2 separate regions of the Homo sapiens genome follow, and region 1 is linked to region 2. Evidence: fine-mapped expression QTL. A gene starts in region 2. The other region holds a variant in brackets. All regions are shown on one strand. Distances are between the middles of the regions.

Region 1 (5,375 bases), 56 kb before region 2:
CTTGTCTTCTAGGCCACTGCGGCAGCCAGGATGGGACCAGAGAAAGTTAAAATGCCATGGAACTCGCGGTTCTTGCTGAGATTCACCTGGTTTTTCTTGATTAAGCATTCTTCTGATTGCTGCAAGTTTTTAATTAGTTTTCCAAAGTTTTAAAATAGTAGATTCTAACGGTTTTTGCCTTTTTCTTTTTTTTTTTTTTTTTTGGAGACGGATTCTTGCGCTCTCACCCGGGCTGGAGTGCAGTGGCGCCATCACGGCTCACTGCAAGCTCCGCCTCCCAGGTTCACGCCATTCTCCTGCCTCAGCCTCTCTAGTAGCTGGGACTACAGGCACCCGCCACCACGCCCGGCTAATTTTTTGTATTTTTAGTAGAGATGGGGTTTCACCGTGTTAGCCGGGATGGTCTCGATCTCCTGACCTCGTGATCTGCCCACCTCGGCCTCCCAAAGTGCTGGGATTACAGGTGTGAGCCACCGCGCCCGGCCTAGTTTTTGCCAGTTTTTAAAATGTGTATATTGAAGGATGGACTTTGAGTTCCTTACTCAGCCATTTTTGTGGACATGATTTACTAGTCATAATTTAAATTGAATATTTTAGGACATATTAAATTATGATCAGTTTCGAGGTTGCCAAATTTACGTACACCTTACTTGGTTACACAAGAGATTTAAGATGGCTTACAAGGATAAATAGCATAAGAGATGCAATAAATTATCATTGTCAGTATTTGTTGGGTTGAGGGCATGTTAGTAAAAACTGCCCTCCCTGCTGTTAAGAACTTGATCCTACAGACAGAAATGTTTCCTTGGCAGCCTTGAGATTCTTGCCCTCTCTCTGTTACGTCAGTGGTGGGGAACCTGGGGCAGATTCGCCTCCGTGGCTTCTCCTGCATGACTGCGTTGGGCTGAGGGAGATATGCCAGGTTAGTGCCCAGCAGTAGGGATGGTTGTTACTGTCTGCCTCTGAGTTGATTGTGAGAAATGTGTCTCCAGTGTTGGTTTTCCTAAATCTAAAACTCTCCTTTGCTCAGGACAGGACAGGTAAGTGTTTATATCCTATTTGAGGACTTAAGACATCATGTCTATTGTCCTATTTGCTTCAGGAGGTGATCAGGGGATTCTTACACTTCAGATCAGAAGTGACTGCTCTTGGTGGCTGTTGATCACTGGGAGAGTCAAGAGTCATCAGTAAACCTGAGACTTGTCCATCCCCTGGTTCTGGTGCCTGTTGAGGTGTCTGTCTCCTGCTTTCCCAGGAGCCAGTTCAGTCCTGTGGCCACCTCATTGATATAGAAGGTCACGGGGCTGCCGGCTGGGCTCTGCTCAGGGTTCGTGTCATTTCTTTCTTCAGCTTTTGTTTAGAAAGCATATTTTCCTTGAGCAATGTCTGTCAATTTGACATAGTGGCTCATTTACTAGTCTTACTTGAGAACACCTCCTTTTGACATTGCTTCTGTGATAGAATTAGAGCTGCTTTCTGTTTTTATATATTGGATTGTCCCTTTTTCATCAGCATCACTCATAAGTTAATCTGAATTTTTTTTTTTTTTTTTTTTGAGATGGAGTCTCATTCTGTCACCGAGGCTGGAGTGCAGTGGCACGATCTCGGGTCACTGAAACCTCTGCCTCCCAGGTTCAAGCAATTCTCCTGCCTCAGCCTCCCAAGTAGCTGGGACTACAGGCATGTGCCACCATGCCCAACTAATTTTTGTATTTTAGTAGAGACGGGGTTTCACCATGTTGGCCAGGGCTGGTCTTGAACTCCTGACCTCAAGTGATTTAGCCGCCTCAGCCTCCCAAAGTGCTGGGATTACAGGCGTGAGCCACTGTGACTGGCCTAATAAAATTAAGATTTCTCTTCATTAAAAGACACTATAAATAAAGTCAAGCCATAGTGCTGGCTTTGGCAGCACATATACTAAAATTGGAATGATACAGAGAAGATTAGCATGGCCCCTGCACAAGGATGACATGCAAATTCATGAAGCAGTTCCGTATTTTTAAAACACATGCACACATATGTTTATTGCAGCACTATTTACAATAGCAAAGACTTGGAACCAACCCAAATGCCCATCAGTGATAGACTGGATAAAGAAAATGTGGCACATATACACCGTGGAATACTATGCAGCCATAAAAAAGAATGAGTTCATGACCTTTGCAGGGACATGGATGAAGCTGGAAACCATCATTCTCAGCAAACTAACAGAGGAATAGAAAACCAAACACCACATGTTCTCACTCGTAAGTGGGAGTTGAACAGTGAGAACACATGGACACAGGGAGGGGAACATCACACACTGGGGCCTGTCGGAGGGTGGGGATAGCATTAGGAGAAATACCTAATGTAGATGACGGGTTGATGGGTGCAGCAAACCACAACGGCACGTGTATACCCATATAACAAGTCTGCATGTACTGCACATGTATCCTAGAACTTAAAGTATAATAATTTAAAAAAAAGTCAAGCTATAAATAGGGAAAAGACATCTGTAATACATAAAACTAACAAAGGATTAGCTGTTAACATATTAAATAGATGGGGAATCTCCCCAAATCAATATTACGAGACAGGAACCCAATTAAAAAAATGACACCACCAGGCGCAGTGGTTCATGCCTGTAATCCCAGCACTTTGGGAGGCTGATGTGGAAGGATCATTTGAGGCCAGGAGTTTGAGAGCAGACTGGGGAACATAGCGAGACCCCCAGCTCCTGAAAAAATAAAAAAATTAGCTGGGCATGGTGGCATGTGCCTATAATCCTAGCTACTCTGGAGGCTGAGGTGGGAGGATTGCTTGAGCCCAGGGGGTCGAGGCTGCAGTGAGCCATGATGGCACCACTATACTCCAGCCTGGGCAACAGAACGAGACTCCATCTCTTGAAAACACACACACACACACACACACACACACACACACACACACACAAAACAATGACAAGAAGGCACAATTTGGCATTTCACGGAAGAGAAAACAAGTGGCCTCTCAGCATATGAAAAGATGCCAAACCTTTCTAATCAGGATAAGGGGCATAAAGACCATAGTCCTTGGTTGGTAGAAATTAA[G/A]ATGACTGATAACTGTAAGTGTTGGTGAGAGTGTGGTTTCATAGAAATTCTTGTGCTGCTAGTGGAAGTATTTGTTGTTACCTCTGCTTTGGAGAGCAGTTTGGCACTCATTTACAAAACTGGCCTTTCGTACAACCTACACACCAGCGACTCCTCTCTGCTCTTTAGATGTAGAGTCCAGAGCAAGGACTGGTAAACTCTTTCTGTTACGGGCAAGAGAGTAAATATCCTAGGCTTTGTGGACTACATACACACTTAGTCTTTGTTTTTATAACACTTAAAAAATCTAAAAAGCATTCTTAGTTCAAAGACCTTACAAAAATAGGCTGCTGGCTGGATTTGATTTGCAGGCTGTAGTTTGCCAATTCCTGGTTCTCTGATCTAGGGGACGCATCCTGGAGAAACTTAGTTACATGCAGTCTTAGTGGCAGGAGGGCCAGGGGAAAAGCACAGAGCGGTATGGGGGAGTTGAGAGAGACTGGGAGGGTGGCCTCCTGGAGAAGGTCGGGGGCTGGACTGCATGTGTCTGGGTAGGCTCAGCCATGGCCTGGCTGGGTGGGCCTAGGGGAACGTAGAGCTTCTGAGGCACAATAGGCCAGTGTGGAGAGCAGAGTGGCAGGCAGGGCTGGGGGCTGCAGGTCGAGGCTGGTCAACCCTTTTACCTGGCGGGCAAGGCTAGTACCAGGTGCCCTTGCTACTTAGCTTGGAAAGATTAGTGAGCATCATAATGGACCGGCAAGTTTGTAAGCAAATGACATCTATAATACATATACTTTAACATTAATGTTTTGAAAACTTTGTTTTCACAAATAAGTAATTTCCCACATTTTGCCACAGTTATGTTCTATGAAGCTAACCCAAGTGTGGCTAGAACGCCAGTTCATCCATCTCTCAAATTGTCTGCTGCCGGCGTTCATTCCTGTTTGCTTCTAGCTGTAAAGTCAGGCTAGGAGTCTGTCAGCTCATGTGCCTGTCAGCTTCATGCAGGCAGCAAGAACGGGGCTCGGAAGCAAGGGCTCCGCCCGCCCACCCAGCAACTACCTCCCCAGGATGCCCAGGAGCTCAGGGGTGGAAGGAATTTGGCTCTTATTTTTCTAAGTAGCAAAAATAGATGAATTGGGTACAGGAACGCAGTGTATTTTTGAGGGAGCTGGTGAGTTGTGAAAGAAACTTCCTCTGTTCACCTGAGGCTTACCGTATCGTGAGAAAGGATGGAGGAGGCATGGAGGTGGGAAACTCTACACAAGAAAAATCCTATAGTGCAGCAGCTACTGATGTGAGGCGGCTGGTCTAGGCAGCGGTGTTCCCTGAGGCTCCTGAGTCTGGTTCTCACTGGGTCCCTCACCTCCCTTCACAGCCACTCCCTTCCTTACCAAGGTACATGGGAGTACAGGGCTGGCCAGGGGCTGTTGACAGTGGGGGAGTGGTGCAGGCTGAGCCTTAGAGACAGGAAGGGCATCTGTGCTGGAGCTGCCCTGCAGAAGCCTCGTAAAGGTCGTAAGGCACTGGGCAAAAACTTTTCCAAGAAAGTTCATGGTGCACACGCTGACCTAAACACTGGCCGACATTCCCAAGGTTTTTTTCATTATGGAAGTGCATGGCCATTGCATGGTATCCAGAAAACAAAGACCAGAGAAGCCAGACTTTATACCACCATCTGGAAACATTTAATTTGTGCTTTAGGTAAGTGTTAGCAAATATTTAGGATGATTGATCAAATCATTAGTGTGTTTATGAGTGCATGGTGTAATTTTTACTAAAGCTCACATTTCTTCAGGAACTCGATTCAACTCCTTTACATTCCTGGTTATTTTCATTTACTTGATCTTGAGGTCTCATCTGGCAGAGCTGTGCAAGCTGGGACCTTTGTGGCTTATTTTGAGGAGCTGTTTACTTTACCTGTTGATGGGAACTTGCAGGTGGGAGGCAGCCAGTCTTAAAGAGTACCTTGTTAGCAAGTGTGGAAGAGAGTCCGCGCAGACAGACTTGCCCTATGTGGTGTCCCCTCTGCCAGCCCAGCCCTTGGGCACATTGGCACCTACCTGAACCCGAGCCCCCTCATGCACACAGGGAGCCGCACCTCCCTCACACGCTCCTCACCAGTGTGACATGGTGTGACGTGCTCTGTGGGTCCACAACGGGCCCACTCCACAGCTCTGTGCACAGCATGCTGGGTCAGGGTGGTGCTAGATTAATAAGATGAGGGTGAATGTCAAAACTGAGCACTTTGAGTACTGTGGGCACACTGTCACAGGGTTTACCCAGGAAGGAACAACCCCTGGGCTCCAGAAGCAGGTTGACCAGGCC
Region 2 (5,320 bases):
AATTCACCATCCACCATCACCTTCCATCCATCTACCACTCATTCATTCACCATTCATTTATCCACCGTCCATTCATGCATACATCCACCATCCATCTATCCACCATTCATCCATCCACCATCCACTCCCACTATCCATCCATCCACCATCTATCCATCCACACATTCACCATCCACCCATCCACAACCTACCATCCATTCATCCACCATTCACTCATCCACCATCCATTCTCCACCATCCATCTACCCATCCATCCCTCTACCCATTCACATATCCACCATCCACTCATCCATCATCCACAATTCACTCATCCAGCGTCCATTCATCCATCCACCCATTCACACATCCACCCATCTACCATCCACCATCCCTTCATCCACCATCCACCCATCATTCACTCACCCACCATCCACCATCCATCCATCCACCCATCTATATGTCCATTCACCCATTCGCCATCCACTCATCCACCACCCACCATTCATCTATCATCCCTCATCCACTGTCTACCATCCACCATTCATCCATCCACCCATTCACCCATCCACCATCCATCCATCCACCATCCACTTATCCACAATCTGCCATCCACCATTCGCCATTCATCCATCCATTCATCCACCACCCATCACCATTCACATCCACCATCGGCCATTCACCATCCACCATCCACCATCCACCTATTCACCATCCACCATTCACTCATTCACCACCCATCCTTCCATCCACCCACCATCCACCACCCACCATCCACCAACCACTATTCATCTTACCATCCACCATCCACCATCTATCATCCACTATCTACCATCTGCCGCCCATCCATCCACTTAATATTCACCATCTACTCATCACCATTCACTTGTCCATTATCCACCACCCACCAACCATCATCCACCTACCATCCATCATCCACCATTTATCCATTATCTACTTATCTACCATCCATTACCCATCCATTTATCATCCTATCCACCATCTACTATCCACCCATTATCCACTATCCACTGTCTATTCACTATCCACCATCTATTCACTATCCACCGTCCATCTCCATCCACAATTCACCATTTATGCAACCATCATCCACCATCTATCCATTTACCATCTATCTATTCACCATCCACCATCCATCCATTCAGCATTCATCACTCACCAAACATCCACCATTTAACACCCACTTTTTTTTTTTTGAGATGGGGTTTCACTCTTGTTGCCCAGGCTGGAGCACAGTGGCGTGATCTCCGATCACCACAACCTCCGCCTTCCAGGTTCAAACGATTCTCCTGCCTTAGCCTCCCAAGTAGCTGGGATTACAGGCATGTGCCACCATGCCTATCTAATTTTGTATTTTTAGTAGAGATGGGGTTTCTCCATGTTGGTCAGGCTGGTCTCGAACTCCCGACCTCAGGTGATCTGCCCGCCTTGGCCTCCCAAAGTGCTGCGGTTACAGGCGTGAGCCACCGTGCCCCGCCAACACCCACTCTTTATGATCTACCTGTCGGCCATGTATCCATTTATGCCATTATCCATCCACCACTCCCTGATTACCATCCATTCCTTTTCCTTTTTTTTTTTTTTTTTTTGAGACGGAGTCTCGCTCTGTCGCTCAGGCTGGAGTGCAGCGCACGATCGTGGCTCACTGCAAGCTCCACCTCCTGGGTTCACGCCGTTCTGCCTCAGCCCCCCAAGTAGCTGGGACTACAGGCGCCTTCTACCATGCCCGGTTAATTTTTTTGTATATTTTTAGTATAGACGGGGTTTCACCGCGTTAGCCAGGATGGTCTTGATCTCCTGACCTCGCGATCCGCCTGCCTCACCCTCCCAAAGTGCTGGGATTACAGGCATGAGCCACCACGCCCGGCCATTCATTCATTTTTCACTCACCATCCTCATCCATCCATTCATCACCCATCCACCCTCTATCACTCACCATCCACCCCGTCAACCATTTACCATTCATCTGCCATGCGTCCATATGCCGTACACCATGCACCATCAATGTTGCTGTCCATCAGCTGTCCCCTACTCACCATCCACTACTCTCCACCATCATCCACAATCCACCCTCCTATACCATCCACATACCATGTTCCATCCAGGATCTTCCTTCTATCATCCAACCACCACCCACAGCCCATGGGACAGGGGCACTGCGTGGAGAAGTGGACACCCAGTTCCAATGGTGAGCAGACTAGCTCAGCCCTAGCAGCACACAGGACAGAGAAAGGGGTGAATTCAAAGGTCGTTTATTCCCCCTCCCGGCAAGACACCCATTTTACAGGGTAGGTCAGTCTCGCCAAGCCCTTCTTCTTTGCCCTTCTTCCTGAGAACCTAAGGTGTTCAGGCCCTGCAGGGGCGGGTAAGGGGAGGCTGAGAAGGTGCCTCCCAGGGGCCTGAAGAGTCGGCCCTGGGCGGGTCTGGAGGTAAATGTGTAACCGACCCTGGTGCCCCCACCCGACCTGCCTGGTCACGTGGGTCCAGTGGGGCAAAGTCTCCTGGTGGGGTGCAAGGAGCCGAGGCGAGATGGGCGTCCTGGGCCGGGTCCTGCTGTGGCTGCAGCTCTGCGGTGAGCCGGGACCACACCGGTGCGGGCCCGGACGGTAGCGGTCTGTCAGGACCCAGGGCCGAGGTCGCTCTAGGCCTGGAGGGTGAAGATCTTCCGAGGAGTGGGCAGGGAGGGCTTTGGAGGGTTGGGGGCGTGAAACTCGGCCCTGCCTCCCTCGTCTGGCGAGTGCGCAGCCCGGAAGTGCGCGGCCAGTGCATCGGGCGGTGCGGGAGAGGAGAGGAGGGGCTCCGGGAACCTCGGCCAGCCCCGGCCTCCGGCGGCTCCTGCCCTCGCGGTTTTTCCGTCTGCGAAATGGGCGCGGTCCCCAGAACCTGCCGAGAGCAGCGAGTGTGCGCCTGCGGGGCTCGGCAGACCGCCTCAGCTTCCCGGTCCCCAAGGGAGCACTGAGCCCTCCTCCGCCTTCACACCAGGCCGGCGCGTGTCCCTGGCGCCCCCTTCCCTAAACCCCTCGCGGCTCCCTCAGGACAACCCCACCCACCACATTCAGGGCCGGCCTGACCTGGTCCTGCCGCCCCCAGCCCCTTCTTACTTCTCATACCGGGTTGCGCTCTGTCGCAGCTCTTCCCGGCCCAGGTAGGACTCCTCCGGGAAGCCTTCCTGATTCCAAGGCCGAGAAGAGGTCTGTGCTGCCCCATCCTCCTCCATGCCCCAGTTGTCACTGTCCTTAACAACGCTGTCCTCTGCTCCAGCGCCAGGCAAACTGGGGGCAGTGCCGGGAGGCTATCTAGGCAGGCGTCCTGCAGGGCGCGTTTGAGCGGGCTCTGCAGGTATCAGTAGAAGTCCGTTGGAGAGCGCCCGGGCAGGGCGCCCACAGTCTGGCCGGGAGGGACCAGGGTCTGGGTCCGGGCCCCCGGGGATGGGGTTCCTATGCGTCCCGGGTGATCCGCGCGGACCTTCCGCACTTCTCTGGGTGGGTGGCCTTCCCTGAGAAGGGAGCATCCCGGAGAGCATCCCGGGCACTCAGTCGCCTCCTCCCCAGCACTGACCCAGGCGGTCTCCAAACTCTGGGTCCCCAACACGGACTTCGACGTCGCAGCCAACTGGAGCCAGAACCGGACCCCGTGCGCCGGCGGCGCCGTTGAGTTCCCGGCGGACAAGGTGCCTGGGAGCGCCGGCGGGGTCGGTGATGGGCCTGGACCCCTGAGACCGTGTGGCCCCGGTGGGGGTTGCTCCCGGCTCGGCTGAGGCAGCTTCTTCCTGCAGATGGTGTCAGTCCTGGTGCAAGAAGGTCACGCCGTCTCAGACATGGTAAGGCCGGGCTGCTACTGCCACTGGGCTGGGGGTTCACAGAGTCTCTGAAGCGCCTTCAGGGACTGCTGTGCCTTGAGGGCGGACCCCACCGGCATGGAGGCACTGCAGGACTGGGACTTTGGCCTCTGGAGAATATTCTAGGAGGCAGGGAGTGGGGGGGAACCTAGGGGAGCTTGGTCCCATGGTCCCAGCCAGGCTGTGTCCTGGGAGGGATGGGAGGCACCCCTGTCCCCACAGCCCTTGTGATGCCCAGCAGTGGGTGGTCTTCCCAGGAAGCGCCTGCTCCATGCCCTTCCCCCAAAGCCTTGCCTTGTCCTGGTGCCTAAAGCTCCATCTTTAGAACACTAGGGAAAGTGTCCCCAACACCCCCCCCTCTACCCACCATCCGGGTCCCTGGCCTGTTAGGAAGTGGCCGCCCAGGAAGAGGCGAGCCCACTCCTGCCTGGCTCTGCCTCCCTTCAGATCAGATCAGATTCTCCTAGGGACCCCTATTGTCACTGCGCCAGCGAGGGGCCTGGGTGGGTGTGCACTCCTTAAGTGGCTGACATCTGAGATGGGACAGCTTAATCCTGAAACCTTCCCCACTCCCATCAGTCCATGGAAGAACTGTCTTCCACAAAACTGGTCCCTGGTGCCAAAAAGGTTGGGGACTGCTGCCCTAGGGGACCTTTTTCTCAAACTGCTTCACACAACACTCCAAGAACATGATGGGAACTGGGAGGAAAGCGGGTTCCATGAGTAGGTAAGTTTGGGAAATGCTGCAGCCTGCACTTTCCTGGAGCTTCATCACGTATTAAAGGCTCTGATAAGGCCCCAGAGAAAGAAGCTAATTTCCTTGTTTAAGGTGGAGTTCCGCAAGCTACAGGCCAAATGCAGCCCCTACGGGTGGAGCAAGGAACGGTTTTTACACTTTGTAATCGTTGGGGAAAAAAAGAACAATCTTTTGTGGCACTTGAAAAATATATGACATTCACACCTCAGCGACAGTAAATACAGCTTCACTGGCACACAGCCTGCCCGCTTGGTTGAGTATCCTCGGTGGCCACTGTCCCATTGCATCGGCAGCCCACCAGCTTCCAGGGTGACTGTGGGGCCTGCAGGCCAAGCCTCTGGGCAAAAGCTTCCTTCCAGCCCCTTCACAGCCACTCCTGGGCTGCGTCCTCATCCTGTCACCTGCACACCTGCCAGCTCAGTCACTCCTGAGTGAGGGTCACTGGTGAGCTGGGTCGGGGTGTCGGCTCCAGATGTGGGGTCCAGGCCTGGGGCCCCCGCGTGTGCGGGTGGGGAGGATGGCTCAATGGGCTTGGCCTGGCCCATTCCTGCCCCATGCGGGGTCAGGGACCCTGGGCCTCATTTCCACCCCAGGGCCGCTTGGTTCCTTCCTTCAGGTTTTCCAAAGCTGCCTTAACCCAAAAGCTGCCACACACTGGGGAGGGCACCCACAGCAAGATGGCGACGCTCCCACCCGGGAAACAGGAGGAGGGCAGGGAGAGGGAGGCG

The links. PIP is the estimated chance that this variant, and not a neighbour inherited with it, causes the effect.
Region 1: its variant is the best candidate, but not a certain one, in a credible set for the expression of AMN in lung (TOPMed, PIP 0.51).

The regions. Positions count from the first base shown.
Region 1 is chr14:102,863,963-102,869,337 of GRCh38, forward strand. All of the region lies in intron 2 of TRAF3 (TNF receptor associated factor 3), which reads left to right. It also overlaps the pseudogene RNU6-1316P. Among named protein-coding and RNA genes, the nearest start is that of AMN, 56 kb to the right of the region's middle. The variant G/A (reference allele first, on the strand shown) is at 3,069.
Region 2 is chr14:102,920,163-102,925,482 of GRCh38, forward strand. AMN (amnion associated transmembrane protein) reads left to right here and starts at 2,501. Exons shown (of 12, transcript NM_030943.4): 1 at 2,501-2,569; 2 at 3,549-3,667; 3 at 3,773-3,817. The coding sequence starts at 2,527. RefSeq lists silencers at 2,725-2,924, 4,088-4,286.